Linked DNA regions of Homo sapiens. The protein of the gene in region 1 interacts with the protein of each later gene in a biochemical or structural test. Each region holds a gene or a part of one and is shown in the gene's direction. Other genes may lie near its edges. The genes, in order: PRKN, MFN2, ARRB2, USP30, EIF4B, MAGI3 and MAGI1.

Evidence for each region.
Region 2: of the proteins of PRKN (region 1) and MFN2, one has a biochemical effect on the other in vitro, tested with the Homo sapiens proteins (2 studies listed by BioGRID).
Region 3: the proteins of PRKN (region 1) and ARRB2 form a complex in vitro, tested with the Homo sapiens proteins (one study listed by BioGRID).
Region 4: of the proteins of PRKN (region 1) and USP30, one has a biochemical effect on the other in vitro, tested with the Homo sapiens proteins (one study listed by BioGRID).
Region 5: of the proteins of PRKN (region 1) and EIF4B, one has a biochemical effect on the other in vitro, tested with the Homo sapiens proteins (2 studies listed by BioGRID).
Region 6: the proteins of PRKN (region 1) and MAGI3 interact in a test that uses a peptide from one of them, tested with the Homo sapiens proteins (one large-scale study listed by IntAct).
Region 7: the proteins of PRKN (region 1) and MAGI1 interact in a test that uses a peptide from one of them, tested with the Homo sapiens proteins (one large-scale study listed by IntAct).

What each region holds. Positions count from the first base shown.
Region 1 is NC_000006.12:162,437,479-162,441,808, reverse strand, and holds part of PRKN (E3 ubiquitin-protein ligase parkin), read left to right. Parts: intron 1-4,330. UniProt on the Homo sapiens protein: Functions within a multiprotein E3 ubiquitin ligase complex, catalyzing the covalent attachment of ubiquitin moieties onto substrate proteins. Substrates include SYT11 and VDAC1.
Region 2 is NC_000001.11:11,997,444-12,001,163, forward strand, and holds part of MFN2 (mitofusin-2), read left to right. Parts: intron 1-1,326; coding exon 1,327-1,435; intron 1,436-1,544; coding exon 1,545-1,652; intron 1,653-3,720. UniProt on the Homo sapiens protein: Mitochondrial outer membrane GTPase that mediates mitochondrial clustering and fusion. Mitochondria are highly dynamic organelles, and their morphology is determined by the equilibrium between mitochondrial fusion and fission events.
Region 3 is NC_000017.11:4,713,387-4,717,716, forward strand, and holds part of ARRB2 (beta-arrestin-2), read left to right. Parts: intron 1-1,600; exon of another isoform or gene 1,601-1,626; coding exon 1,627-1,657; intron 1,658-1,799; exon of another isoform or gene 1,800-1,950; intron 1,951-2,586; coding exon 2,587-2,647; intron 2,648-2,760; coding exon 2,761-2,805; intron 2,806-3,025; coding exon 3,026-3,222; coding exon of another isoform or gene 3,223-3,285; intron 3,286-3,830; coding exon 3,831-3,890; intron 3,891-4,298; coding exon 4,299-4,330. UniProt on the Homo sapiens protein: Functions in regulating agonist-mediated G-protein coupled receptor (GPCR) signaling by mediating both receptor desensitization and resensitization processes.
Region 4 is NC_000012.12:109,076,279-109,080,608, forward strand, and holds part of USP30 (ubiquitin carboxyl-terminal hydrolase 30), read left to right. Parts: intron 1-4,330. UniProt on the Homo sapiens protein: Deubiquitinating enzyme tethered to the mitochondrial outer membrane that acts as a key inhibitor of mitophagy by counteracting the action of parkin (PRKN): hydrolyzes ubiquitin attached by parkin on target proteins, such as RHOT1/MIRO1 and TOMM20, thereby blocking parkin's ability to drive mitophagy.
Region 5 is NC_000012.12:53,033,521-53,037,850, forward strand, and holds part of EIF4B (eukaryotic translation initiation factor 4B), read left to right. Parts: intron 1-285; coding exon 286-514; intron 515-1,091; coding exon 1,092-1,189; coding exon of another isoform or gene 1,190-1,204; intron 1,205-3,888; coding exon 3,889-4,102; intron 4,103-4,330. UniProt on the Homo sapiens protein: Required for the binding of mRNA to ribosomes. Functions in close association with EIF4-F and EIF4-A. Binds near the 5'-terminal cap of mRNA in presence of EIF-4F and ATP.
Region 6 is NC_000001.11:113,641,515-113,645,844, forward strand, and holds part of MAGI3 (membrane-associated guanylate kinase, WW and PDZ domain-containing protein 3), read left to right. Parts: intron 1-396; coding exon 397-1,002; intron 1,003-2,228; coding exon 2,229-2,260; intron 2,261-4,330.
Region 7 is NC_000003.12:65,377,324-65,381,653, reverse strand, and holds part of MAGI1 (membrane-associated guanylate kinase, WW and PDZ domain-containing protein 1), read left to right. Parts: intron 1-527; exon of another isoform or gene 528-605; intron 606-2,099; coding exon 2,100-2,393; intron 2,394-4,330. UniProt on the Homo sapiens protein: Plays a role in coupling actin fibers to cell junctions in endothelial cells, via its interaction with AMOTL2 and CDH5. May regulate acid-induced ASIC3 currents by modulating its expression at the cell surface.

The sequences.
Region 1 (4,330 bases):
AGATGATTGACTTTGCAAACATATATGCCTAAGACATGTGTTGATTTATGAGTCTATTTTGACAAACACTTCTTAAGCACTTCCAATGTCCTAGGCTTCTCAGGGGATCCAAAAGAGAGACCTAACTCAGCCCCTGTTTTCATGGAGACTGCTCTTTATTTATGAGCCCTAAAACCGAGAGAAATATTAGATTGAACCATATGGGATTGCCATTTTTACAGGTTCAACAATTTCATGTTGTTCAACCTAATAGCTATAATATAAGAATATGAAACATAACTGCCGTATCGCACCTGAAAATATTATGAAGTTTTAAAGGTGGAGAAAACACATCTGGTTGGAAGTCACCAGGAAGAACTTCTTGGATGAATTGAGTTGAGGTAGGATTCTGTAGATGGAGGAATAGGGGAATGAGCATAGAGAATGCTTGCCAAAAAGGATGGGTTCTTGTTCTTCTAGAACCTGAAGAGAGATGTTGAAGATTGGACAAAAAATAAAATATGGGCTATATTTCACATAACCTTGACTAACTTGGCATTGAAGTTTCATTGGTGGGGAACTAGAGAAAAATGTCATGCCATAGAAGGAAATGGGAAGTCTGAAGACCCGGTTTGGTTGGGGGAAGGATGCTGCATTGTTCCAACATGATGGGAGTTGATGCCAGCTGAGTACGTGTGTTTGGAGATGCCTAGCTGGCTGTTGAGAACTTGTGTCTGAGGACACTGAAAAAGAAAGGTTCATACTTATGGAACTTCTATTAAATCACAGTTAAATGATTTAGGTGCCGAGAAGTTGGCAAACTTTGTTCATAGAAGAGTTTCACTGTAAAGACTAGGAAGTTACACATGTAATTGCAAATTGATGGCTATGTTTTCTTTAAGTGTACAACTGGCAGAATTTTAGCATCCTAGATATTCTTGTATAATCTTAGAACATATGTTTACAACTATTTAGTCAATATCATTTAGTTACCCATTATCATTACAGGTGCTATATTTCACAGTATAAGCACAAAATATCTAATAATAAGTTGCTGCTGAGAAAAAGAAGATGGACCTTCCATATGAGCTACTTAATGCTTCCATTAATGAATGTTAAATATACACCTTGGTGTCCTGAAGAGAAGAAGAGATGGCTGGGGTGGTGTCTATGCTTGCTGGGTGTCTTCCTCCTGGTTTCGTATTCTTTATCATAGGTGATATGAACATATATATTAGCTTATCATGCAAAATGAGATATTGTGAGTATAAAAGAAGACCCTGTCAATAATTATTCCAGGACAAAATTATATGTTGGGAGTGTCCTAGGAAAACTGAGGCAATGGTCACCCCACATACTGAGCAGTATCTCTCACACTTAGTTTCACCTTCTTTGAGGAGGAAATTAGTTTTAGTGCCTCACCTCAGGTACTTTGGGGAACTATAGCTTGAGACCACAGTCTTATGAAATGTCATAATTTTAAAAAGCGAGTTTGTCTATTTAACTGGCAAAGGGTATTTGTAAGATTATAATAGAATTGATGTCACATCTAAAAAATTTTCATAGAATTTTCAGTTCTGGGAGAGCATATCCACAGGCCACTTAGAGAAGCACTGTTAGAGTATAGTTATTTTCATTACACACTCATCTGTTCAGTTTTGTTATTGGCAAGACTTTAAGAACTTTAAAAAATTAAAGGAAAATGGAAAAAATATAGACATTGAAAACGAATGATCTGGCACAGATTTTGCTTCTGGGAAGCTGGAGTAGGCATACTTTTCCCTCTTCCTCCCAGCAACTACACTAAAAAGCCTAGACATTGCATATTGTACAGTTGACTCGTGGAGTCATGGAGTTAGGGGTGCCAACCGCTATGTAGACAAAACTCATGTATACTTTTATCTCCCCTCACACTTTACCAGTAGTCTGCTATTGACGGGAAGCCTTACTGATACCATGAACAGTTGATTAATACATATTTTTCATATGTAATATGTACTGTATGCTTATAATAAAAAAACTAGAGAAAACATTAACAGCATTACAAAAAGGAGAGAGGATACTTACTATTCATTAAGTAGAAGTGGATCATCAAGATTTTCATTGTCTTTGTCTTCATGTTGAGTAGGCTAAAGAGGAAGAGGAAGAGGGGGAGTTAGTCTCACTGTCTCAGGGGTGGCAGAGGCAGAAGAAAATCTGCATATAAATGGACCCATGCAGTTTCAACCCATGTTATTCAAGGGTCCGCTGTACAAGCTTAGGAAGATTCTGAAAGTAGTGAGAAGAATGTGGACAGAGTAGGGATTTTAGAACCCAAGGAAGAATCCAGAGGTGAATTTCTTGAGTTTTCTTTTTGCTACGTTACCTCAGATGTGGAACTGAAGAAGCTGGCAACCAGGAAATGTCAACATATATAGACAAAAAGAAAAGAGAAGAAAAAAGAAGCAGAGAGGAAGGGAGGGGCAGAGAGAGAGAGAGAGAGAGAGAGAAGGGAGGGGTAAAGGAAGGGGGAAGGGAAGGGAAAAGGAAGAAAGGAAGGAAGGAAGAAATCCCCAACAATGGCCTGTTTTTTATCCAGAGGACTCAGAAAGGGGCTGCCTAGCAACATAGAAAACATTTAGACAATAACCAGTCTACTCCAGCCAAATGCAACAGAAAAACTGCGGCCCTATCCTTGTCCCCACCAACACTAGTAAAGGCTGAGTGGAGAGCCTCTTGTTTGAAATTTCTGAAATAAAACACTCACTGATGGGTTTGACATAAGAATGGAAGGAACAGAGAAAAGAGTCAGTGAACTGGAAGTTGGAACATAGAAATGACACGGTCCAAATGGCAAAGAAAAGGTAGGCTGGAAAAAGAAAAAAGGAATAGAGCCTCAGAGACCTGTGGTTCTCCAACAGAGCATTTAAAGTTTGTGTCAGGGGATTCCTGGAAGGAGAAGATAATGGTGGGCAAATGCTCAAAGAAATAAGTGTTGGAAACTTCCAAAGTTTGCAAGAGACATAAAGTTATAGATGGATTTATAAAGCTGAGTGAATCTAAAACAGGAAAAACCCAAAGAAACCCACACCAACACACAACGTAATTCAACTTCTTAAAACTAAAGACAAATTTTAGATCTTGAAAGAAGCCAGAGAAATATCACACCTTCCCTATAGGGCTAACATTGTTCTAATTACAGTGGATTTCTCATCAGAAACCATGAAGGCTAGAAGGAAGTGGCACAATGTTTTTCAAATGCTGAAAGAAAAGAACTGCCAACCTGTAATATTATACCCAGTGAAAATGTCGTTCAGGAAGAAAGAACAAATCAATACTTTTTTTTTTAGATAAAGAAAAACTAAGCGAATTTGTCACCAGCAGACCTACCCTAAAAGAATGGCTAAAGAAATTTTCTAAACAAATGAAACAACAAAAAAAGGAATTTTGGAACACTAGGAAGGAGGGAAAAACATAGTAAGCAAAAATATGGTTAAATACAATGCACTGTTTTTCTCCTCTTGAGTTTTCTAAATTATGTTAGAGGGTTGCAGCAAAAGTTATAGCATTGTCTAATGTAGTTCTACATGTAGAAGAAACATTTCAGGCAAACATAAACACAGATGCAAGGAAAGGTAAGATTTCTAAACTTGACCTACAAAATAGCAACTGCAGTAGAGCATGACAAGTTAAGAATGTATAAAGAAATATCTAGAGTAATAGGTAAAGTAGGTAAATTAAAATACAAAATAAAGACAACACCAAATGCTGGTGAGGATGTGGAGAAATTGGATTACTCGCAAATTGCTACTGGGAATATAAAATGGTAGAACCACTCTGGAAAAGAATATAGCAGTTTCATAAAAAATGACATATGTATTTACCAGATGACAGAGTTATACTCTTAGTTATTTATCCTAGAGAAATGAAGACGTAGGTACACACACAAATCTGTATATGAATGTTTATAGCAGTTTTATTCACATTAGCAGAACACGGAAACAACTCTGATGTCTTTCAGTGGATCTGTGGTTCAACAAACTGGTACCTCCACACCCTAGAATATTACTCAGCAGTAAAAAAGGAGCCGACTGTTGATATACAAAATATCTTGGATGGATCTCAGGGGAAATGTGCTGTGTGGAAAAAGCCCATCCCCAAAGATCGTACACTGAATAATTTTATTTATATAACATTCTCAAAACGACAAAATGATAGAAATGGAGGGCAGATTCATGCTTCCCAGCAGTTCTGAAGGGGGTGGAAGCAGGTGAGAGGAGGGTACGACTGTGAAAGGGTAACAGAAGGGACCCTTTGGTGACGGCCGTCCTCTGTGCTGACTGTAACAATGCTTATAGTACAATTATAACGT
Region 2 (3,720 bases), on another chromosome or scaffold:
GGAGGTCCAAACTGGAAGGCACCAGGTTTCCATTTCTGGATAATCTAGGCCAGGGTCCCTGGGCCCCATCCTTGCTCTGCTTAAGTATTACTACCTTTCAGATGGGCTCAACCAAATCCTCTGGCCTCTTGGCTTTCCTCTGGAGTCTGGTTACTATACCTATTTATCAGTACCCTGCAGATGTCCCAGGGATGGTCTGTAAAAGATAGGAGGGATGCTCAAAAGTTGGTGGGGGAGGTTCTCAATCTCAGCCCAGTGCCAGCATGTGTACTGGGGGTGGGGAGTTGTGGCGGAGTCAGAGGTGTATTTTATTTCCCTTGAAGAAACACTTTGCCTTGGCTTGGTGGACTGGTTATAACTATACCAACATGTACAGTATTGTAGTGTTTATCTGGACTCACATCAAGTCACAACTTCACCTTAATTGTATATCATCTTTTTTTTTTTTTTTTTTTTTTGAGACAGAGTCTTGCTCTGTCACCCAGGCTGGAGTGCAGTGGTGCAGTCTCGGCTCACTGCAACCTCCGCCTCCCGGGTTCAAGTGATTCTCCTGCCTCAGCCTCTGGAGTAGCTGGGATTACAGGTGCCCGCCACCATGCCTGGCTAAATTTTGTATTTTTAGTAGAGACGGGGTTTCACCATGTTGGCCAGGCTGGTCTTGAACTGCTGACCTCATGATCCGCCCACCTTAGCCTCCCAAAGTGCTGGGATTACGGGCATGAGCCACTGTGCCCCGCCTGGTATATCATCTTTAAAGTAGAATTACAAGTAATTCTGTTTTTATAAAAGCAATAGATATATGTGTTTAAAAACACTCATTTCTGCCAGGCACGGTGGCTCATGCCTGTAATCCTAGCACTTTGGGAAGCTGAGGCGGGCAGATCAGGAGGTCAAGAGATCGAGACCAGCCTGACCAACATGGTGAAACCCTGTCTCTACTAAAAATACAAAAAAATTAGCTGGGCATGGTGGTGCGTGCCTGTAGTGCCAGCTACTTGGGAGGCTGAGGCAGGAGGATCGCTTGAACCTGGGAGGCGGAGGTTGCAGTGAGCCGAGATCGTGCCATTGCACTCCAGCCCGGGCGACAGAGCAAGACTCTATATCCAAAAACAAAACAAAACAAAACAAAACACTCATTTCCAGGCAATCTGGAAGGATAGGAAATGGGAAGTAAAATCCGTTAATGAGGGCCAGGCCTGATTTCTCTCCCGTCCCTGGCTTTCTCCTCCATGACCTGCCTGCCTCACAAGTCCCAGGTCTGTTCTCAGCAGGAAGAATAGGGCTCCTGCTCTGCCTGATGATTTGGTTTACCCCTGTCACCTTTAGCCCTGGTATTGATGTCACCACAGAGCTGGACAGCTGGATTGACAAGTTTTGTCTGGATGCTGATGTGTTTGTGCTGGTGGCCAACTCAGAGTCCACCCTGATGCAGACGGTAACTCCTCCTCTGCCTTCTCCCAAGCTCCCAGCACCCCCTGGGCAGGCAGCTGATGGGGCCTTGGCTGTCAAGCTCCTGCTCCACCGAGGTCTTACCCTTTATCTAGGAAAAGCACTTCTTCCACAAGGTGAGTGAGCGTCTCTCCCGGCCAAACATCTTCATCCTGAACAACCGCTGGGATGCATCTGCCTCAGAGCCCGAGTACATGGAGGAGGTTCGTGCTTCTGTTTGGCAGTTTGGGGAATGCAACCCCGAGGGAGCACTGCCTGCCACTGGGGCCACTTCCTGCACCCCTGGATCTAGTGACTTCCCTGAATTAATTTTATTGCCAAAGAATTCTCCAAATACTCTTCTGTGGTATCTTCTGGTGGTCTTTCCCCTCTCCCATCCACTTTGCTGGATGCACCCCCTCTTCAAGCCACTCTCCCCTAGGCCTAAAAAGGATCCCTGCTGCATTAGTGCATCTTCAGTGCCGGTGCTCAGTTTGGTTTCTGAGGAATTAATACAGAACAGGCTCAGCTCTAGGGAGGCCTCTGGGAAAGAGGCTGGAAAGAGGAATGGAGAATAACTGGTTCTTACTGGTGACTTACAACTCTTAGCTATTTACTTATTTATTTAGAGACTGGGTTATGAGGCTGGCTAATTTTTGTATTTTTGGTAGAGACGGGGTTTTGTCATGTTGCCCACGCTGGTTTTGAACTCCTGGGCTCAGGTGATCCACCTGCCTCAGCCTCCCAAAGTGCTGGGATTACAGGCATGAGCCACCACGCCTGGCCTCACAACTCTTTAAATATGTGAAATGAAAGACAAAAGGGTAACAAACGGCATGGTGGTGCACACCTATAGGCTGAGAGAGGATCCCTTGAGAGTAGGAATTTGAAACCACCTTGGGCGACGTAGCAAAACGCCATCTCCAAAAAAATAAAGGGTAGGCCGGGCGCGGTGGCTCACGCCTGTAATCCCAGCACTTTGGGAGGCCGATGTGGGCGGATCACGAGGTCAGGAGATCGAGACCATCCTGGCTAACGTGGTGAAACCCCGTGTCTACTAAAAATACAAAAAATTAGCCGGGTGTGATGGTGGCAGGCGCCTGTAGTCCCAGCTACGCGGGAGGCTAAGGCAGGAGAACGGCGTGAACCCGGGAGGTGGAGCTTGCAGTGAGCTGAGATTGTGCCACTGTACTCCAGCCTGGGCAAGAGAGTGAGATTCCGTCTCACAAAAAATAATTAAACAAATAAAGGGTAATAAGATTGATAATATGGCAATATGGGATGATAAAACATGCAGTTGCAGTCAGTAGGCCAGAGTCCAAATTATTTATTTTTTTCGAGATGGAGTTTTGCTCTTGTCACCCAGGCTGGAGTGCAGTGGCACAATCTCGGCTCACTGCAACCTCCACCTCCAGGGTTCAAGCAATTCTGCCTCAGCCTCCCGAGTAGCTGGGATTACAGGCACCCGCCACCACACCTGGCTAATTTTTGTATTTTTAATAGAGATGGGGTTTCACCATGTTGGCCAGGCTGGTCTTGAACTCCTGACCTTAAGTGATCCGCCCGCCTCGGCCTCCCAAAGTGCTGGGATTACGGGCGTGAGCCACTGTGCCCGCTTGTGACTGACACTAGGCAGTGTGACTTTGTTAGCTTCCTTGACCCTTCTGGTAATCCAATTTCCTGGCCAGTGTGATGGTGTGATAAATAGACTTGTTGAGAGGATGAAATCTGTCAAAAACACCTGACACGTGGTAGGTGTCTACAAGAAGCTATTGTCACATTTTATCGGTAGAACCCCAGGATGTCAGAGCCAGGAGGGATGTTCTAGTGATGCCCACTCCTTTTATAAACAATGCCCCAGGAGGACACAGCTTGTCAGAGTATAGGTCCCAGATTTAGGTTTCTTGACCTCAGGGTTCCTTTCCTGCCAGGGCACCAAAATGAGGCACTATATAGGCTTAACAAGAGGCAGTCTAGGGCACGTTTAAGCATTTCTGCTTGTATATGCATAAAATATCTTTGGCACGCTCACTGCCAAGTAACCCCCACACGTTGGTCTGGGAAACTTGGTGGTGAGAGAGCAGAATAGTGGGGGACATTACACTGTGTATGTGTTTGTGCCTTTGGCTGTTGAGCCATGTGAATATATTGCCTATTCTTTTTTTTCCCTCACTCTGTCGCCCAGGCTGGAGTGCAGTGGTGCTATCTTGGCTCACTGCAACCTCCGCCTCCAGGTTCAAGTGATTCTCCTGCCTCAGCCTCCTGAGTAGCTGGGATTACAGGCGCCTGCCA
Region 3 (4,330 bases), on another chromosome or scaffold:
CTTTGGGAGGCTGAGACAGGTGGATCACGAGGTCGGGAGATTGAGACCATCCTGACTAACACAGTGAAACCCCATCTCTACTAAAAATACCAAAATTCGCCGGGCGTGGTGGTGGGTGCCTGTAGTCCCAGCTACTCGGGAGGCTGAGGCAGGAGAATGGCGTGAACCCGGGAGGCAGAGGTCGCAGTGAGCCGAGATCGCACCACTGCACTCCAGCCTGGGCGACAGAGTGAGACTCCGTTTCAAAAAAAAAATTAGCCAGGCATGATGGCAGGCACCTCTAATCCCAGCTACTCAGGAAGCTGAGGCATGAGAATCGCTTGAACCCAGGAGGTGGAGGTTGCAGTGAGCTGACAGCGTGCCACTCTACTCCAGCCTTGGTGATAGAGTGAGACTCCATCTCCAAAAAAAAAAAAAAAATACAAAACATAGCCGGGCATGGTGGCTCACTCCTGTAATCCCAGCTACTCAGGAGGCTGAAGCAGGAGAATCACTTAAACCTGGGAGGCGGAGGTTGCAGTGAGCTGAGATCGCACCACTGCACTCCAGCCTGGGCAACAGAGTGAGACTCTGTCTCAAAAAACAGAGTATTACAAGAGATGACACATTTGAAACACTTGGAACAGTGCTGGGCATGGAGTAGTCACTCTGAAATGTTAGCAGCATTACCATCTTCATGATATGGCTGGCATTGTGCTGGAGATGCCTAAATTAATAAGGCCTCTGAGGCTCACAGTCTGAGGAGGGAGGGAGCTAACTATCCTTGTGTGCTACCACACCACAAGTAAAACATAAACAAGGTGTGACAGGAACCCAAAACAAGGAGCGACCAGGGTCTGGGCTGGGTCAGCTTCCTAAAGGCTGGGCCTTAAAAGACAAATAGGCTTTTAAGCTCTTGAGGTCGGAGTTGGGGACAGTTGGAGGTGAGTAGAGTCGAACTTGGGTAGGGCCTGTGGTAGAAACTATCTGAGGGCCAAAGGCCAGGGTCATTGCTCTCCTATATGCTCCAGCTGTCAGAGCTGTAGACCAGATGGAAAGATGGTTAGGTCTTATCCAGACACTGTGGCTACCTGCCCATTCGGGTCCTCTGGGAAGAGCCTGGGTGGTTCCTAGGGCAACCAGTGGCCATTACTGGGGAGGGAAGGGGACGAATGAGGGTGGACAAGACAAGGGGCATTTCCCCTTGCCACCACGTTAGAAATAGGAAGGACCTTCCGGGAAGAAGGGTTCCCCTTGCCACCACGTTAGAAATAGGAAGGACCTTCCGGGAAGAAGGGTTCCCCTTGCCACCACGTTAGAAATAGGAAGGACCTTCCGGGAAGAAGGGTTCCCCTTGCCACCACGTTAGAAATAGGAAGGACCTTCCGGGAAGAAGGGTTCCCCTTGCCACCACGTTAGAAATAGGAAGGACCTTCCGGGAAGAAGGGTTCCCCTTGCCACCACGTTAGAAATAGGAAGGACCTTCCGGGAAGAAGGGGAAAGGGGCAGAGCTGGGCAAAGCCCCACAGCCTCAGGCAGGAGGCCTGGGTGAGCACTGCTTCTCAGGCCTGGGAGGGAGAGGGTCCTGGTGTGGGGTCCCTGCTGAGTCTGAGGGAGGCAGTGGGGTTTCCCTTTCTGTTTTGTTAGGGTCTTCAAGAAGTCGAGCCCTAACTGCAAGGTGAGTCTCCACAGCACTTACCCTTTTGACCCTCCCTGGGCCCCAACAAAGCCCAGCCTTCCCCTAGACGATCCCCAACCTACCCAAAGATGATCCCCAACCCCTAGCTCCCCACTTCCTGTGACAGCTAAGCGCCGACTTCCTTCCCTCCTGAAGCCCCTTGCCGCAGAGGCTGCTCAGCCTGAGCCAGCCACAGGGCTGGGTGGGGCAGGCTTGGGTCCCCAAGCAAGACCACAGAGGAGGAGGCCAAAAGCAAGCCATGTGCCTGTAGCCCTCCTAGGAGCCAACCCAAGGTGCGTGGGGCTGGGAAAACCTAACAGCCCCCGGGCTATGGCCTATTTATCCTAGAGCCCCTTGAGGGGACCTAGTGAGGGTGGCAGCTGCTCTCTAGCTGGCTGGTTGGGCTGAGTTCTCCCCGAGGATCCAAACACACACACACACAGACACACACACACATACACACATACACACACACCTGGCTGGTTGGGCTGAGTCCTCCCTGAGGATGCAAACACACACACACGGACACACACACACACACACGGACACACACAAACACACCTCGCTGGTTGGGCTGAGTCCTCCCTGAGGACACACACAGACACACATGCACATACATGTTCACACACACACCTGACTGGTTGGCTGAGGACACACACACACACACACACACACACACACAAACACACACACACCGGGCTGGTGGGCAGAGGTGTGCAGAGATAAAGGAGCAGCTCAAAAGCCTAAAGGTCCACTAGTCTGAGAAACGCCACCACCCTCACTTTCCAACACTATTGGGAGGAAACCTGGAACAACTCCTTCCTGATAGCCCAGCCTGGAGATCCCCGGGCAGGGCAGCCAGTTTTGAGGGCTCCGATGCCCTGTCACCATCCTCCCCAATCTCCCCTGTGACCCCTTGACATCCTCAGCTCACCGTGTACTTGGGCAAGCGGGACTTCGTAGATCACCTGGACAAAGTGGACCCTGTAGGTAAGTTTTCCCAGAAAGGGACAGCTCGTTCCCCAAGAGGGGAAGAAGTTCCCGGGCCCAGGAAAGCGGGGAGCGGCCCTTTCAGGAAGTGAGCTGGTGTGTCCCCCTCCTAGATGGCGTGGTGCTTGTGGACCCTGACTACCTGAAGGACCGCAAAGGTACTGGCCCCAAGTCCAGGGGGCCCAGGGAAAGTGGGGGCTAGGGAAGTGAAATGGGCTGGCCTTGGAAGGGCGCCCCAGAGAGATGGAGGCTGGAGGTGGAAGCCAGGAGTAGGGTTCAGGCAAGTCTTATGCTGCTGAGGGAGGAGCAGCGGCTGCTAGGTGCCAGGGGACTGGGGAAGTGGGGCTCCTGACCACTCATCTCACCCTCCCTTGCCAGTGTTTGTGACCCTCACCTGCGCCTTCCGCTATGGCCGTGAAGACCTGGATGTGCTGGGCTTGTCCTTCCGCAAAGACCTGTTCATCGCCACCTACCAGGCCTTCCCCCCGGTGCCCAACCCACCCCGGCCCCCCACCCGCCTGCAGGACCGGCTGCTGAGGAAGCTGGGCCAGCATGCCCACCCCTTCTTCTTCACCGTGAGGATGCCCCTGCCCTCTGAGGGCCAGGGGGCTGGGGCTGGGACTGTGTCTGGGGTGGGGGTAAGGCACTGCTGTGGGCAGATCTGGAAGAAACAGTGAGGCAGGGACCCTAGATCCACTTCCCTTCAGGGTCCCAGTGCATTCAGGAAGCCCTTGATTATCTGCCTCCTCTCTGGGGCCCCTTCCTTCTTCCCTTCTCATCCCCAGGAGTCCTTTCTCCAGCCTCTTTTTTGTTGTTGTTGAGACAAAGTCTCGCTCTGTCGCCCAGGCTGGAGTGCAGTGGCACAATCTTGGTTCACTGCAACCTCCGCCTCCCAGGTTCAAGTGATTCTTATGCCTCAGCCTCCCGAGTAGCTGGGATTACAGGCACGCACCACCACACACGACTAATTTTGTATTTTTAGTAGTGATGGGGTTTTGCCACGTTGGTCAGGCTGGTCTGGAACCCCTGACCTCAGGTGATCCGCCCACCTTAGCCTTCCAAAGTGTTGGGATTACAGGCATGAGCCACCACACCCAGCGTCTCCAGCCTCTTAGGTTGAGATTTGGAGGAAGATCTGGGGGCTTTCTGGAAGAACTGAAGTCTTCTCCTTCCTCCGCCACAGATACCCCAGAATCTTCCATGCTCCGTCACACTGCAGCCAGGCCCAGAGGATACAGGAAAGGTACGGGAGGAACAGCTCTGAGGGCTCCTAGGGCAGGACATGGGCCAGCAGGAGCCTGGAGGCACAGCTGAGCCAGAGGGTGAACTGTCGAGATGCCAGGGTGGGGCCGAGGGTAGGCCAGTGTCCCCCGTGGAAGTGGGGCGTATGTGGTGGTCATTGTGCACGCATGACACTGCCTCCTGCTCTGTGGACCCGCATGGATCTGGGGATGGGGGCTCCCCTTGCACTACCATGACCAAGCCTCTGCCAGGTTCTGGGCTTTGGAGAGGAAGAAGACTTAGTCCCCAGGGTCGTGAGACCACAATGAGGCAAGAGTCCCTGCCCGAGAGGAGGGAAGGGGGAGGAAGAAAGGGCAGTGATGGTGGCGGGAGCCTCCGGTAAGATGTGGCCTTTTCTCCCCTCCCCGAGGCCTGCGGCGTAGACTTTGAGATTCGAGCCTT
Region 4 (4,330 bases), on another chromosome or scaffold:
TTCATTTATTACTTCTAGAAGCTGTAGAAGTTTTGTTATGTATTCCTTAGCATTCTCTGTGTATGCAAACAGTCATGTTGCTTATGAATAGAAATAGTTTTAGTTCTTCCTTTCCAACCCAATCTTTATTCCTTTTTTTTTTTTTTCTTTGCCTTATTATCCTGGCTAAGACTTATGGTACAAAGTTAAATAAGAGTGATGATGGCAGACATCTTTGCTTTGTTTCAAATCTTCTGAAGCAAGTATTTGGTGTTTTATAATTAAGTATGATATTAGCTTTAGGTTTTAGTATACCTCTTTATCATACTGACAAACTTCCCTTCTGTTCCTAGTTTGCTGAGAATTTTTGTAATGAATAGTGATTGGATTTTGTCAGTTTTTTCTGCATCCATTGAAATGATCATATTTTAGTCTTATTCTGTTGACTTGGTGAATTACAGTGATTGATTTTTTCTTTTTTTTTTTTTTTTTGAGACGGAGTCTTGCTCTGTCGCCCAGGCTGGAGTGCAGTGGCGTGATCTCGGCTCACTGCAAGCTCCACCTCCCAGGTTCACGCCATTCTCCTGCCTCAGCCTCCCGAGTAGCTGGGACTACAGGCGCCCGCCACCACGCCCGGCTAATTTTTTGTATTTTTTAGTAGAGACAGGGTTTCACCGTGTTAGCCAGGATGGTCTCGATCTCCTGACCTCGTGATCCGCCTGCCTCAGCCTCTCAAAGTGCTGGGATTACAGGCATGAGCCACTGTGCCCAGCCAGTGATTGATTTTTCTAATGTTAAACCAACCTTTCTGGGATAAACCCCACTTGATCATGATGCTTTATTGTTTTTATATATTATTGAATTTGATTTGCTAATATTTCCTAAAGGATATTAGTATCTGTGTTTATGAGGAATATTGTTCTTACACTTTTCTTCTCTTGTGATGTCTTTGTCAGGCTTTGTTATAAGGATTATACTAGCCTCATAAAATAGGCTGGAAAATGTTCCTTCCTCTGTTTACTGAAAGATTTTGTTTAATATTGGTATTATTTCTTGCTTGTTTGCTAAAATTTGTCTTTTCTTTAGCTCTATTTCTGCTAATTTTTTTTAAACTTTGTTATTGGATACAAGCATATGTATTATGATGAGTTAACTCATCTTGTCATGATAAATTGTCCCTCTTCATCTCTGCTAAGACTCCTTGACTTGAAGTCTATTTGAATGATTCATTTTTAATCTAGCTAATGTTTATTTGGTCATTTCTTTCTGTCATTTTCGGCCTTTGTATTTAAAGTGTGACTTTGTGGACAGCATATAATGGGTCTTGCTTTTTTAACTAGCTTGACAATCTTTTAGTTGGAATGCTTAGTCCATTTACATTTAATGTAAGTATTGATGTGATTAGATTTAGGTCTGCCATTTTACCATTTGTTTTCTGTTTGTCTTACATATTTTCTTGTTCCTCTGTTCCCCCTTCACTGGCTTCTTTCAGGTTAATGGAATACTTTTTAGTATTCCATTTTAATACCTTTGTTGGCCTTTTAGCTTTACTCTTGTGTGTTTGTGTTGGGGGGGGAGGGTGTGTGTGAGAGATTACGTTATGCAGTTTTACCTTATCACATTCTATTTAGAGTTAATATTATACTTCATGTAAAATCCTGGAATATTACAAAAGTATAGTTCTGTTACCCCAGCCTTTGTGCTATTATACATACATTATAAACCTCACAATACTGTGTCATAGTTTTTGCTTTAAAGAGTTATATGTGTTTCATTTCATTTCCTTTGGATATATACCTGGAAGTGGTATTGCTAGTTCATACAGTAGTTCTGTTCTTAACTTTTTGAGGAACCTCCTCCGTACAATTTTCCATAATAGCTGCACCAGCCAGGTGCTGTGGCTCACGTCTGTAATCCCAGCACTTTGGAAGGCTGAGACGAGTGGATCACGAGGTCAGGAGTTCAAGACCAGCATGGCCAACATGGTGAAACCCCGTCTCTACTAAAATTACAAAAATTAGCTGGGCCTGGTGGCGGGCGTCTGTAATCCCAGCTACTCGGGAGGCTGAGGCAGGAGAATGGCTTGAACCCAGGAGGCCGATGTTGTGGTGAGCCGAGATCACGCCACTGCACTTCAGTCTGGGCGACAGAGTGAGACTGAGTCTCAAAAAAAAAAAAAAATAGCTGCACCAGTTTACATTCCCACCAGTAGTATGCAAGAGTTGCCTTCTCTTAAGAGGCTGAGGCAGGAGAATTGCTTGAACCTGGGAGGCAGAGGTTGCAGTGAGCCGAGATCACACCACTGCATGCCAGCCTGGGCGACAAAGCGAGACTCCATCTCAAAAAAAAAAAAAAGAGTTGCCTTCTCTTCTACTAATTAATTAATAGAAAAATATGTTTACCATTTTTCTTGTTCTCAGTCTTTCTTGTAGATCAAAATCCATTTGATGTTTTTTCCCTTTTGGCCTAAAAACTTCCTTTTAACATTTGTTATAGGTGTACTGCTGACAGATACACTTAGATTTCATGTATATGAAAATGTTTTTGTCTTGCCTTCATTTTTGAAGAATACTACTGCTGGATATAGAACTTTGGGTTGACAGTGTTGCCGTGGTTTTGCTTTGGTTTATTTTAAATTCATCACTTTAAGGACATTGTTCTATTGTCTTCTGGCCTCCATTTTCTCAGTTAGTGTCATTTATATCATTCTTGTCTATGTAAATTGTCATTTGTTTTTCTTCTGCTTACACTGCTTACAAAATTTTCTCTTTATTTTTGTTCATGCTGCGCATAGATGTGGTTTTCTTAGTATTTATCTTATTTATCTTGTTTGGGGTTTGCTGAGTTTCTTAAATTTGTACTTTTTTTAACCAAGTTTGAAAATTCTTGGCTGTTATTTTTTCAACAAAGATTTTATGCCCATTTTTCACTTGTTATTTTACTTAATGTTGGCCCACAGGTCACTGAGGTCTTGTTCAATTTTCTTCAATCTTTCTTCTGTGTGTTCTTTAAATTAGATCATTTCTATTGACTTATCTTCACGTTCACTGATTCTTTTTTCTCTTTTTTTCTTTTCTTTTTCTTTTTTTTTTTCTTTTTTTTTTTTTTTTTTTTTTTTTTTTGTGACAGGGGTCTTAGCTCTGTCACCGAGGCTGGATTGCAATAATGTGATCATAGCTCACTGCAGCCTCAACCTCCCAGGCTCAAGTTATCCTCCCACCTTAGCCCCCTGAGCAGCTGGGACTACAGGTGTGTGCCACCACACCCAGCTAATTTTTTTTTATTTTTTGTAGAGACAGGGTCTCACTGTGTTGCTCAGGTTGGTCCTGAACTCCTGGGCTCAAGTGATCCTTACACTTCAGCCTCCCAAAGTGTTGGGATTACAGGTGTGAGCCACCATACCTGGCCTGATTCTTTTTTCATCTCCAATCTCTGTTTGCCTATGCAACAAATTTTTCATCGTAATCACTGTTGTTTTTAGTTATAGAATTTCCATTGCCTTCTTTTTAATAGTTTCCATTGTTCTGAGATTCTCAATTTGTTCATTCACTGTCACTGTATATTTTCCTTTACATCCTTGAGCATATTTATGATACATCTGTGAGGTCCTCGTGTGCTGACTTCTTTGTATTTTATGTTTGGTAATTTTTTATTGTATGCTTAACATCATAATAGAGACATAGAGAGTAGGGATTCTGTTACATATCTATGAAGAAAAATTAATTTTCTTCTGGCCTGCAGTTAACCTGGCTGGGCTCAAACTCAACTCTGTCTCCCCTACATTGGGCAGCAAAATCTCTGCTCAGTTTTTTTAGCTTCCAGCTGCTACTTTTTGCCAGGCTCCCTGGAGTTTCCCCCTGTGCACGTGTGGTTCAGGGATCAGCCCTGGAATTGAACAGAGTTTAGGTATAAACTTTGGGGCTCATCCCCTCTGTGTCTCCTTTCTTCCTGGCATTTCCCCTGGTCTCTCCACCAGCCCTGATTCTTGAACTCTGTCGTCTGACCACTCAATCCTGTAGGATGCTGCTTTTCGCCACCCAGCACCACATCAACCAGGAAAAAAAGCCACAAACACACAAATCTCGCCCACAGAGTTCTGTTTTTCCAACAGTTGACTTCTTTTCCATTTCTGCCTGCTTTTGGTAGCTCTCCGTTCATTCAAACGGTTTTGTTTTGTTGCAAACTTTACAATTGTTATCTCAAGGAGGGCCAATCTACCCAAGCACCTCTGCCATCACCAAAAGCAGGAACTCTCTCACCCTACTTCATCGTCTCCTTTTTTGCAATGAATAATCTAACATGAACATCTTTCCACATGATCATATGTTCTTCTACATTTTGTTTAACATAG
Region 5 (4,330 bases), on another chromosome or scaffold:
TTAGTAGAGACGGGGTTTCACCATGTTGTCCAGGATAGTCTCGATCTCTTGGCCTTGTGATCCACCCGCCTCGGCCTCCCAAAGTGCTGGGATTACAGGCGTGAGCCACCATGCCCAGCCTAAACTACCTGTTTTCTAATGATCTATTTGCCTTCTGTGGATTGGTTAGGCCACTAACTTGAATCTCATGTAGCATTTCATAGGAGTTATATCTGAGAAATCTGGCTTTCAGCCATCAGCTTCTGGTGATTGGAAAACTATTACTTAAAGTTTCATTTAACTTAGGTCCCCCCCAAAGACCCAAACTGAATCTAAAGCCTCGGAGTACTCCTAAGGAAGATGATTCCTCTGCTAGTACCTCCCAGTCCACTCGAGCTGCTTCTATCTTTGGAGGGGCAAAGCCTGTTGACACAGCTGCTAGAGAAAGAGAAGTAGAAGAACGGCTACAGAAGGAACAAGAGAAGTTGCAGCGTCAGCTGGATGAGCCAAAACTAGAACGACGGCCTCGGGAGAGGTGTGTTGTCTTGATGGATATCCCATCTAGGAATCCGGTGGTTCGTAATGGGGGCATTACATCCCCAGGGGCATTTGGGAAATTTGTGTCGTTATCACATTAGTGGTTGTCACTGATGGGCATTTAGTGGGCTGTGGCCAGGGGTGTTAGGCAGTATGCAGTGTTAGGGACAGTTTTACACAATGAAGAGTTGTTCCCTGTCCATTACAAAAGTGTTTACTATTAAAAGCTGGTATTGTATCTAAAAGGCTAGAGACCTACTATAATAAGTAATTGCCCTGAAAAACTAGGCCTGGTAATGAGTGGCTTGTAGAACTGTGTTGATTAGTAAAGAAGGGCAGTATTGTAGATTATGTAGGATACTGTTCTTAACCATATTAGTTGATTCTTGCTGAAGTATTTAGGGCCAAAGTGTGTCTTAATGTCTGTAGCTTTCAAATAGTTTGAGGGAAAGATAAATTTATATGCATATACACATATAGATGAAGTAAGTGATGGTTCTTGAGGGGTCAGCATGGGTCTAAGGTGGCCTTCACTGAGCCAGGCATAATGTGTATTTTGTGAATCTCTCGTACAGACACCCAAGCTGGCGAAGTGAAGAAACTCAGGAACGGGAACGGTCGAGGACAGGAAGTGAGTCATCACAAACTGGGACCTCCACCACATCTAGCAGAAGTAAGTCAGACCAGGGTGGGTATCGTGTTATTGCCGTTTTCCATAAACTATCCATAACCAAATTATGCAGAGACCCTGCAATATTTAAATTCAGTCATGAACTCTTTATTTGGGTTGCATGGGCCGATTGGAGTTTCATATCTTCTGCTCCAAAGAATCTGAGGAATGGGTACCAGAGTAGACCTAGATGATCTGCTTAATAATCTACCACTGAAGTGTATACTTGGTTGTTAGGTTTGTCTCTCTCTTTTTTTTTTTTTTTTTTTTTTGGTATATTTTCATTTTATGTCTTGACATCTTTGAATGTTGTTTATTCAGAACAGTCAACGGCTTGGAGTTTCATGTGAGCTGTCCCAAGACCAGCCTTTTTTGATGTTATCATCACCAGAGCAGTGTTCTCAAGCAGTGTTATTACTGGTTGATCAAGCACTTTTAGTGTTTTGGAAACCTAAATGGTTCAATTGTAATACCTCCCTTCCCTTACCATGATGTGTTTTTTTTGTATTTTGTTTTGAGACAGGGTCTTACTCTGTCACACAGGCTGGAGTGCAGTGGCATGATGATGGCTCACTGTAGCCTCACCTCCCTCAGCCCTCAGCCTCCCTAGTAGCTGGAACTGTAGGCATGCACCACTACACCCAGCTAAATTTTTTATTTATTTATTTTCTTTTTTTTTTGAGACCGAGTCTCGCTCTGTCGCCCAGGCTGGAGTGCAGTGGCGCGATCTCGGCTTACTGCAAGTTCTGCCTCCCGGGTTCATGCCATTCTCCTGCCTCAGCCTCCCGAGTAGCTGGGACTACAGGTGCCCACCACCACACCCAGCTAATTTTTTGTATTTTTAGTAGAGATGGGGTTTCACTGTGTTAGCCAGGATGGTCTCAATCTCCTGACCTCATGATCCACCCGACTCGGCCTCCCAAAGTACTGGGATTACAGGCGTCAGCCACCGCACCCAGCCTACACCCAGCTAAAATTTTGTAGAGATGGTTTCCCCATGTTGCCCAGGCTGGTCTCAGCCTCATAAAGTGCTGGGATTCCAAGGGCCAGCCACTGTGATATTTTTTAAGGTCTTTCCTCCCACCTCTAAATTGATTTGTACTTGCATTTCATTCATTTATTTATTTATTGAGATGGAGTCTCGCTCTGTTACCAGGCTGGAGTGCAGTGGCACGATTTTGGCTCACTGCAACCTCTGACTCCCTGGTTCAAGCAATTCTCCTGCCTCAGCCTCCTGAGTAGATGGGATTACAGGTGAGCGCCACCATGCCCGACTAATTTTTTGAACGGGCTGGTCTCAAACTCCTAACCTCATGATCCACCCGTCTCGGCCTCCCAAAGTGCTGGGATTACAGACGTGAGCCACCATGCCTGGCCTTCTATTTTTTTTATTTTTTATTTTTGTATTTTATTTATTTATTTTGAGACGGAGTTTCGCTCTTTTTGCCCAGGCTGGAGTGCAATGGCATGATCTCAGCACACTGCAACCTCTGCCTCCCGGGTTCAAGTGATTCTCCTGCCCAAGCCTCCCGAGTAGCTGGGATTACAGGAGTCTGCCACCAGGCCTGGCTAATTTTTTGTATTTTTAGTAAAGACGGGGTTTCACCATGTTGGCCAGGATTGTCTCCATCTCTTGATCTTGTGATCTGCCCGCCCTGGCCTCCCAAAGTGCTGGGATTACGGGCGTGAGCCGCCGTGCCCGGCCTAGTTTTTTATTTTTAAGACAGGGTTTCATTCTCACCCAGGCTGGAGTGCAGTGGTGCGATCATAGCTCACTGCAGCCTCAAACTCCTGGCCTCAAGCAATCCTCTTGCCCCAATATCCCAAGTAGCTGTTATACGACGGGTGCACGCAACCATGCCTGGCTAAATTTAAAAAATTTGTTTTTTTAGAGATGGGGTCTCACTACACTCCCCAGGCTGGTCTCAAACTCCTGGCCTCAAGCAATCCTGCCTCAGCCTCCCAATGGGGGCTCCTTGTTTTTAGAAGACACTTAACTGCATTTTTTAAAAAACGCACGTGTAGGTTGTTGTTTTTTGAGATGGAGTCTCACTCTGTCAGCCAGGCTGGAGTGCAGCAACATGATCACAGCTCACCTCATCATTTCTAGTAGCTGGGACTGCAGGCACATGCCACATCCAGCTAATTTGTCTATTTTTTGTAGAGCTGGGGTTTCACCATGTTGTCCAGGCTGGTCTGAAACTCTTAGGCTCAAACGATCCGCCCCCAACAGCCTCCCAATATCCTAAGATTACAGGCGAGAGCCACTGCACCCAGCCAGTAGGTGGTTTTTCATAAATATGATTGCATCATAGTCCATGTGTGTTGAGTTTTAAGCTGAAGTTGAGCAGTGGTTACTAGAGTTTGGGGTTTCATTGTAGGTCCTCTTCACATATGTATATTCTCCAGGTCAAGACACTTTTAACATTGAGAATGCAGAAAGGCTGTAAAGGATACTCATTCCTAAAAAGGTCACATGGCTGGGTGTCCCTTAAGTTGTATACATGGTCATTATTTTTTCTATTTCTCTGTGCATCAGTAAGACATTGTTCTGGAAATACTTGTAAACCACTGGTTTAGGGATAAATCCATCTTTGGGAGCCAAAACTTGGATGTGGACCATTTTCCACACTGTTGAGATCCTGGTAGATGCGTGAGCATCTGCAGCCTGATAATTTGATATTTTCACTCTGGCTTCACAGATGCACGAAGGAGAGAGAGTGAGAAGTCTCTAGAAAATGAAACACTCAATAAGGAGGAAGATTGCCACTCTCCAACTTCTAAACCTCCCAAACCTGATCAGCCCCTAAAGGTAATGCCAGCCCCTCCACCAAAGGAGAATGCTTGGGTGAAGCGAAGTTCTAACCCTCCTGCTCGATCTCAGAGCTCAGACACAGAGCAGCAGTCCCCTACAAGGTGAGTCAGTTTGGAAACAGTAGTTGGTTAACTGCAGATTCTAAAATACTGTGATGTAATGATGGAAGATCTCCTACGGGATGCCAGCGTTGTATAGCACCTTATAAGTTATGCTGGCTTTAGTCTCTTAGTGTGCTGGAACTGGCTCATAAGACCTAGTTGTTCCATTTTCTGGAGTTCCACCACTTTGATAGCTTGAAATCAGCTATGATGGGAGTACTAATGCCG
Region 6 (4,330 bases), on another chromosome or scaffold:
TACAGTTTGTACAAGTAGTCAGTGGAGTTATTTGCTTCTGTACTAAATACCTACTGCAATGTGCCTAGCTTTGCATGGATACTTAGATATGACTCAGAGGGTATACTAACAATGATAATATAAATTATCAGGGTTTTTTTTTTAATGATTCACTTGAGCTTGAAGTCAAAATTCTTTGCTACTGAAATAAGTAGGATTTTAGACATTTATACATACATTTTAGAGAGGAGTTAGAAAAGGGAGAAGGTCTGTGTTAGAAATCTATCTTTTCAGCAGTTAATAGAGGTTTCCAAAATTCAAATTTAGTTGCTAAATTGTAGTTATTTTTGCCCCTCTAGCAAAAAAATTAACTTATTTGTTGATTTTAATATTTTTAACATGATTATGTTTTTCCAGGCGATGTTATTGTAGACATCAATGGCAACTGTGTCCTCGGTCACACTCATGCAGATGTTGTCCAGATGTTTCAATTGGTACCTGTCAATCAGTATGTAAACCTCACTTTATGTCGTGGTTATCCACTTCCTGATGACAGTGAAGATCCTGTTGTGGACATTGTTGCTGCTACCCCTGTCATCAATGGACAGTCATTAACCAAGGGAGAGACTTGCATGAATCCTCAGGATTTTAAGCCAGGAGCAATGGTTCTGGAGCAGAATGGAAAATCGGGACACACTTTGACTGGTGATGGTCTCAATGGACCATCAGATGCAAGTGAGCAGAGAGTATCCATGGCATCGTCAGGCAGCTCCCAGCCTGAACTAGTGACTATCCCTTTGATTAAGGGCCCTAAAGGGTTTGGGTTTGCAATTGCTGACAGCCCTACTGGACAGAAGGTGAAAATGATACTGGATAGTCAGTGGTGTCAAGGCCTTCAGAAAGGAGATATAATTAAGGAAATATACCATCAAAATGTGCAGAATTTAACACATCTCCAAGTGGTAGAGGTGCTAAAGCAGTTTCCAGTAGGTGCTGATGTACCATTGCTTATCTTAAGAGGAGGTAAGTAAAAGCACAACATAGAAAAAGTTTCAGTGTTCAAGCGTTTATATCTACTGATTGTCTTTCCTTACAGTTTAGAATGTGTTTTCCCAGCAGACTTAACTAGTAATTAGTGTGCATTTTCCTTAAGGTTCTGTCTGATTGTTTCCATAAGCAGTGTCTTTTTCAGCAGTTTTTAAAAAATTATTAGTGATTTCATTCATGTCCATTATGGATTTATTTCCCTCTGTATTCTTTTGAAAATCTGATTCATGGCTTTAATGATTAGAGAGAGTCACAGCATTGTGATACTTCAAATGAAATACATCCTCTTAATTTCATTTCTCTGTTGATGACAGTAATAGAAATTGACTCTTTCAACCAATGGTGTGTCATCTGGACCTCTGTAATGCACCAAAGATGTTTTGAAAGAGCTAGCATCTCTGTGGATAAGTAAAATGTTGGATGGTGTATTAATCTGTTCTGCAGAGGCAATCATGATAGCATGTGCTCATAAAGTTTTCATCTTAAGCTCTAGTATCTGACTGTAAATGTTAATTAAACCACACAGTGCTTATGTGAGAGAAATATAATTTTTATTTTCCAAGGTCATCAGCTGACATGAACTCCTCCCAGACATTTACAAATTCAGTTCCAAGGAATAATCACAAAGTTGAATTTTAATATGCTTTCTTAAATCCATACTTATAAGTGACTAGTATCTTAAAGAATAAAAGCCACTTACTCTTTTATCTCTCTGGATTTTACTTTTCACTATTGAGGCAAACGAGCACTTCAGCTTCTTTGGGAGTTGTTTCTTATTCTCGTTTCTTTGATTCACATGGGTTTCTTCTCTGAGTGATGGTGGAATGTGCTCCAAGTAAGGTAGAAATCTCTTTGTGAGTGCTTGAGAGTAATCCAGGGCTTCAACAAGTATAACAAAGACACCAAAGTTCAATGTCACACAGGTTTGATGTCAGTTTCCTGCCTTGCCACTTACTGGTTCTTTGGTATAGGAAAGAATCTTAGTTTACCTTCTCTGTAAGATGGTCATAACATTTGTGCCTTCAGATTGTTATAAAAATGAAATGAGATAATATATGTATAATGCCTGGTACATAGGAGGTTAGACACAGAATTTACTAGCGTACTAAAAGTTGAAGCTAGTTTTATCGTAAACATTAGCAGTATTTGTGATCTGGGAATGCATCCTCTGGTTTTAAACTTTGGTTCATTTTTTTTTTAAGGTCCTCCTTCACCAACCAAAACTGCCAAAATGGTGAGTATACACTGGTCCTCAAATCTTTTCCCCAACACACTGAGAGAGATGCCACATTCCCCTCTGTAAGAGGAGCTCACTGTGGTGATGATTATCGACTGGGAGAAGTTAGGAGGCATGCTGCCCTTGGCTTGTATTTATTAGAAACTAGGGAAGCGTTTGAAAAAGCCCCCTAGTGAGGAGATGTGCTCCACTGGTTAAGTATTGCAACTGGAGGATTACTAAAGGCCTATTGTACCAATAATCCTGTTCTCTAAGTTATAAAATGTGAACACATTAAAGAACCAACCTAGAGGTCTTTTTACTTTTGTGTTTCAGAGAAACAAGGTAGGAAGGACCTAAATGTTAAGACAGATGATAAACTATTACATCGTCTTGCCCCTGCCTGAAGAGAAGACGTACTAGTTCACATAATTTTGTGGGGACTATAAATATGCATGCACCTTTAGATAATCTTCTTACTTTTAAGACTAAATTAGGCTTATTTTTTTATTATTTATTTTTTATTTATTTATTTATTTTTTGAGACGGAGTCTTGCTCTGTCGCCCAGGCTGGAGTGCAGTGGCGCTATCTCGGCTCACTGCAACCTCCGCCTCCGGGGTTCAAGCGATTCTCCTGCCTCAGCCTCCCAAGTAGCTGGGACTACAGGTGCACGCCACCACACCCAGCTAATTTTTTTGTATTTTTAGTAGAGACAGGGTTTCACCATGTTGGCTAGGATGGTCTCAATCTCTTGACCTCATGATCTGCCCGCCTCGGCCTCCCAAAGTGCTGGGATTACAGGCATGATACACCACGTCCGGCTGACTAAACAAGACTTTCTAGAGTAATTGTGGCCTTCTATGCTAAATTTGCTTGTTGTCAAAGTGAAAGACCTGAAACAGTGTCTTCTTTGGCATTCTTCTAAATAATCACGTAGCCTGTTTAAGGACCTGTGCAGAGAATAAGAACTTTAAAAAGGAGTGCATCAAATGCTGCTGTTGTGGAAGAAACTCTACAAGGTGCACATTTGTAGCTATTTAAATATCCACAATGTTTTGGATATAAAGACAATTTTATTTAAAATTCTAATTTAGTTCTAGTTTGCTCCTTTGGAGTCTTTTATCTCAAAATCAAAAGATGGCCTTCCATAACCATAAACTATAGACAATTATATTAAATGAATTAGTTCTTTCTAGCCCACCAAGTAGGAATCCTCTGCAAATTTGCTGTTTTATAGATTAAAAAGAATCCCTCAGCTTCTGGCCTTTTTTTTTTTTTTTTTTTTGAGACAGAGTCTCACTCCATCACCCAGGCTGGAATGCAGTGGTGTGATTTTGGCTCACTGCAGCCTCTGCCGCCTAGGTTCAAGCAATTCTTGTGCCTTAGCCTCCCAGTAGCTGGAATTACAGGTGCACGCCACCACACGCAGCTAATTTTTATATTTTTGGTAGAGATGGAGTTTCACTACATTGGCTAGGCTGGTCTCAAATTCCTGACCTCAGGTGATCTGCCCACCTCGGCCTCCCAAAGTGCTGGGATTACAGGCATGAGCCACTGCGCCCGGCCAGCTTCTGCCCTTTTCATTGACTGCTTATACTACTTGGGTCCAGTGTGAACAGAAATTGTTTTTGTCCATTCAGTTCAAATTGCACTGTATTCTACATTTCTCTGGTTCCTCTAGTAATCATTTTTAACTCCTGTGCCACCATATTTATTTCATAATGGATGCCACTGCAGTCGCAGTGGCCCTAATGCTTTATAATTGATGGAAGGGTCTGATGAACTTTAACCGCCTCTGACAGAATGCTAAGATGTATGGGGAAGGGTAGGAGACTACTGTTAGCTTCTCTGCCTTCTCATTGGGTCTGGGTGATTGAAGGGTCCCCTCTAGCACGACACTTTGTAGTGGCTGACCCCTGATTACTCCCTGACAGACTGGTGCCCCTGCATTCTAGTCATTGTTAATGATCACAAACATCCATAATCTCCCTCTCCTAACAATAATCCAGGAAAACGAGCTGGTCTCAAAACCATATTTCTTAGGCCATTTATTGGATTTCATTGTTAACATTTTATTAAATAAGTCA
Region 7 (4,330 bases), on another chromosome or scaffold:
GAGGAAGGCTAGTTGAATATATATTACTTCCCTTCTATCTCCTTGCAAATCAGAACTTAGCCATCCTCTTCATTTGATGCTAATCCTCAGCAAATGAGGTCATTATGAAAGTCAGAAGAGTTGTAGCTTCATATCAAGGGAACAAAAATCGGGTTTGTGCTACAAAATAAGCTCATAAAAAAGTTACTGATTTCTTACTGTCCTATGTATTAAACCAAGATTTTTTTTTTTTCTTTCTACAAGAAAGTTGTAGAGCTGGCCAGTTCTAGGTCAGCTTTGATTCCTTCTTCCTGCCCATAAGCTTTGAACTTTAATTCTCAAAATACTACATATCCTTTCAGGCTCAGCTCAAATATAACTTTCTTCCCTTGGAAATTCCTCCTTCCTCCAACTGCCTTCAGATTTTAGCATTCCCTCCTTGCCATTCTAGTGACTCATGGTTTACTGCTGTATCAGAATCTGCCATTTTGAGACAGTGAATTGTGTGAGTGTTTGTCCTTTCCCTTGAAAGCTCACGTTGAACACACCTTGGTTGTTCACCTTTGGATGCAGCTCCCACCTTGAAACCTTTAAGGCAGAACCCAGAGTGCAGCAGAGGTGATTGTCTTCTATCAGTGGAATTACTGGAGAAATATGACCTGAAATATTATGAATTCTCTTGGCATTCATATTAGTGAAACAGATACCTGTCAGATAAAATTAATTGGTAACTTCTTTTAAAAAAAAAGAGTATAACCCATTTTAAATGGTATATGATTAATTATAGAATTAAGATGTTAAATTCCAGTGTGTTTGTGACCTCACAATCCTTCTTAACATACTATTCCATGTAGCTAAAAGCAGTCAGCTGGAACGAGTTTTTGAGATGAGATGAAAACTAACTATCTCGCTTCCCTGGCCCAAATAGAAATAGTAAGGCAATGTGATTTTTTTTGTTGTTTCAGGTTTATTTTTTTAAATCTTAAATATTTTGGATTTTTAGCTCTGTGTAAAAGGCGTGTCAAATCTATGAAGAGACATTATGCAAGTGAACTAGTCACAAAAGGAGAAATATTGATTCCCTTTATATGAGATACCTAGGGTAGTCAAATTTATAGAGATAGAAAGCAGAATGATGGTTGGTGGGGGGTGGAGGAAATAGGAAGGGGAATTAGTTTTTAATGAGTACAGAGTTTCAATTTGGGAAAATGACAAAATTCTGGAGATGGATGATGATGATGGTTGCACAAAAATGTGAATGCACTTAATACCACTCAACTGTATGCTTAAAAATGGTTTAAAAATTTGTTATGCTTATTTTTCCAAAATTAAAACAATCTATGAAAAGAGAAGCTTTTGGAAATAAATACAGTCTGATCCAAAACTTGGACACAACACACATTTTGTTTTTTGGCATAGTTGGTTCCACCTACGGTGTTGGCTATTTAGGAGTGCTTTACCTTGCAGTCTGATGGTAACACTAGAACGGTGACTAAATTCAGAAGGAGGCCAGTGTATCCAGTTCTGTGATCAGAGTCGATGTTGACACCTGGAAGCTAAGAAGAGAAGCATGTGTATGTCTCACAGGTGTTGTCATGAACCCCACATAGGGCGGGTAGCCTCAACGTTACCATCACCTTACTGTTTGTCGCCTGATGGAAAAAGCTGGGTGGAAATGTGACTGGAAAGTAATGACAATGTGAACGTGCATCCAAGGTTGTATCTATGAAGCCAAGATGGCGGTCTTCACGGGTGTAGCCCTCACCTACGCTTAGGCCCTTCCCTTTGTGCAATGGGGAAATATTTCACAGCAGGCCGATCTTGCTGCAGACTTGATTCTGAGTGTGGATGTCGACATATAGCATGCTATAAACAACAAACGCTATTTGGGAGTCCCATTTGGTGTTAGGTGGGATCAATGTTCGTAGATACTGAATGGTTAATATTTGTCAAGAGAAGCTGCTTTCAATCCGTATATCCAGGTATTGTGAAACCAGGTGCTGTCTCCTCCCCTCGGTTCACGTTTTGATTTCTAGCAGGAGTTGCTGGAAGGAGGGAGGGGCAGCAGGATGGAGGGGCTGCAGGACACGGTGATGTACGCGTGCATCTCTCTGCTACAGTGCCCAAAACCGAGAACGAGGTGCCCTCGCCAGCCTCCTCTCATCACAGTAGCAACCAGCCGGCCTCGCTGACAGAAGAGAAGCGCACTCCGCAGGGCAGCCAGAACTCGCTGAACACGGTGAGCTCGGGCAGCGGCAGCACCAGCGGCATCGGCAGTGGCGGCGGCGGGGGCAGCGGCGTGGTCAGCACCGTGGTGCAGCCCTACGACGTGGAGATCCGGCGCGGGGAGAACGAGGGCTTCGGCTTCGTCATCGTGTCCTCGGTGAGCAGGCCCGAAGCAGGCACGACCTTTGGTGAGTGCTGAACGTGAAATTACCCAGGGTTTCCCACCATGCCTGGGAGTTTTTGTTCTCTTGCGAGTGAAAGCTGACTCAGACCTCACGTGCAGAAATGCTTTATAGCTTCTTGCTCTGGGTAATTAAAGACTTAATTGGAGATGGAGTTGATTTGGTAGCTTTTTCCCTTTTGAAGGTTGGGAATATTTGTTCAACCCTTTCAACTTCCACACTGAGAATGTGATCACGCATACACAACTTAAAGCATACATCAGATTTGCGTGAAATTTGAATAGCAGCCGGGCGCTGTTGCTCACGCCTGTAATCCCAGCACTTTGGGAGGCCGAGGAGGGTGAATCACTTGAGGTCAGGAGTTTGAGACCAACCTGGCCAACGTGGTGAAACCCTGTCTCTACTAAAAGTACAAAAAGTAGCTGGGCGTGGTAGTGCATGCCTGTAATCCCAGCTACCTGGGAAGCTGAGGCAAGAGAATCGCTTGAACCTGGGAGGTGGAGGTTGCAGTGAGCCGAGATTGTGCCACTGCATTCCAGCCTGGGTGACACAGCGAGACTCTGTCTTAAAAAAAAAAAAAAAAGAAAAGGAAAGGAAAGAAAAGAAATTTGAATAGGAACCCCTGGACAGCATACAGAGTCTACAGTTTTTGCCAAAGCAAGGCTTTCGAAAGGTCTTGAATAGGATAGCACTAATTGCAAGGGCCTCAGAATGGTCTTAAGAATGTCTTAAGAGTTTTTACAAGGAGCATACGGCTGTAAAAATGCTCTAGGAAAAACAGAGGTGTAAGGAGTAAAAATACTACATGAGATGCTAGTCTGCCTCATCTGTGTTCTTTCTCTACTCTATCCCCATAGGAATTTTTTTTAATTTTAAATAATATTTTTACTGTTGCTTGATTTAAAGTCTGGTTAAAATCTGAGTTAAGAGTCATTCGATTTTCCTGTCTCGTCCAGACATTGAGGGTTTCAGCAAAGTATGGAGAAACACAGTTGTCACTTTCTCAGAAGGATTCACTCTCTTCTGGGTACACTAGCAAAGACCAATAGAAACCCAGATGATTGCAGAAACTAGTGATATATGAATCTGCTTCCCATTGCAATGGATTGATTATAGATGTACACTCCAAAAATGATCCACCTTCCTGATTGGGTAAAAAGTCATTTGTTATCTCCCAAGCACATTTGTTACTTACTATGGAATACAATGGGAGAAGGGGAAGGGCTGTGCAGGCTGTGTGGGCTTTTCATGTACCTCAGCTCTATCCCTGAATGACTTATCCACATGGAAACTGGCTAGAATCAGCAAGGTGCTACAACCCTTTAGCATTCTCATCCAGTAGAGCTCACTTGGCCTCCATTTAATCCTGGTGTGTTGCTTCCTGCTGGAGCTGTCTCCCCGTAAGTTTTATGTTTAACAGGGGACAGTGACTCAGCCAGGTCTATGCATGTGTGGCTGCAGTAACAAACGCCTATTACTAACAGTGCTTTTTGAGCTACATTAATAAAGTCATCATAGCATGTCATGGATGGATGACCTGACATCAAAGCAAGGTTTTTTGGTTTTGTTTTAAAATTAATTTCAGAGACTTTCTTGCTTAATATAAAAATAAAGAGAAGGAAGAGGGGAGAAAGAAATCCCAAATTATTTTCTTCAGATCTACAGTTTGACTGTCTCCATGCATCCTGTGACGTTCCTAACTATTTCAGAATTGTCAGTTTCACCTTCTAGAAAGAAATAGCAAATATGTCAAGTGGCAGGTTATGTGTTATATAATGAATATTGTATTCACACTCACAATTTGGTCTTTGATTGTTTTCCTTTGGCTCTTACAACGAACAAATTAAACTTTCCCTAATACCTTGCATGAGGCTTCTGAGCTTTGCTGAGCTTTCCTCAGACCTGCTGTTCGATACCTTTGTTATACCAATTGTCCTTGGAGA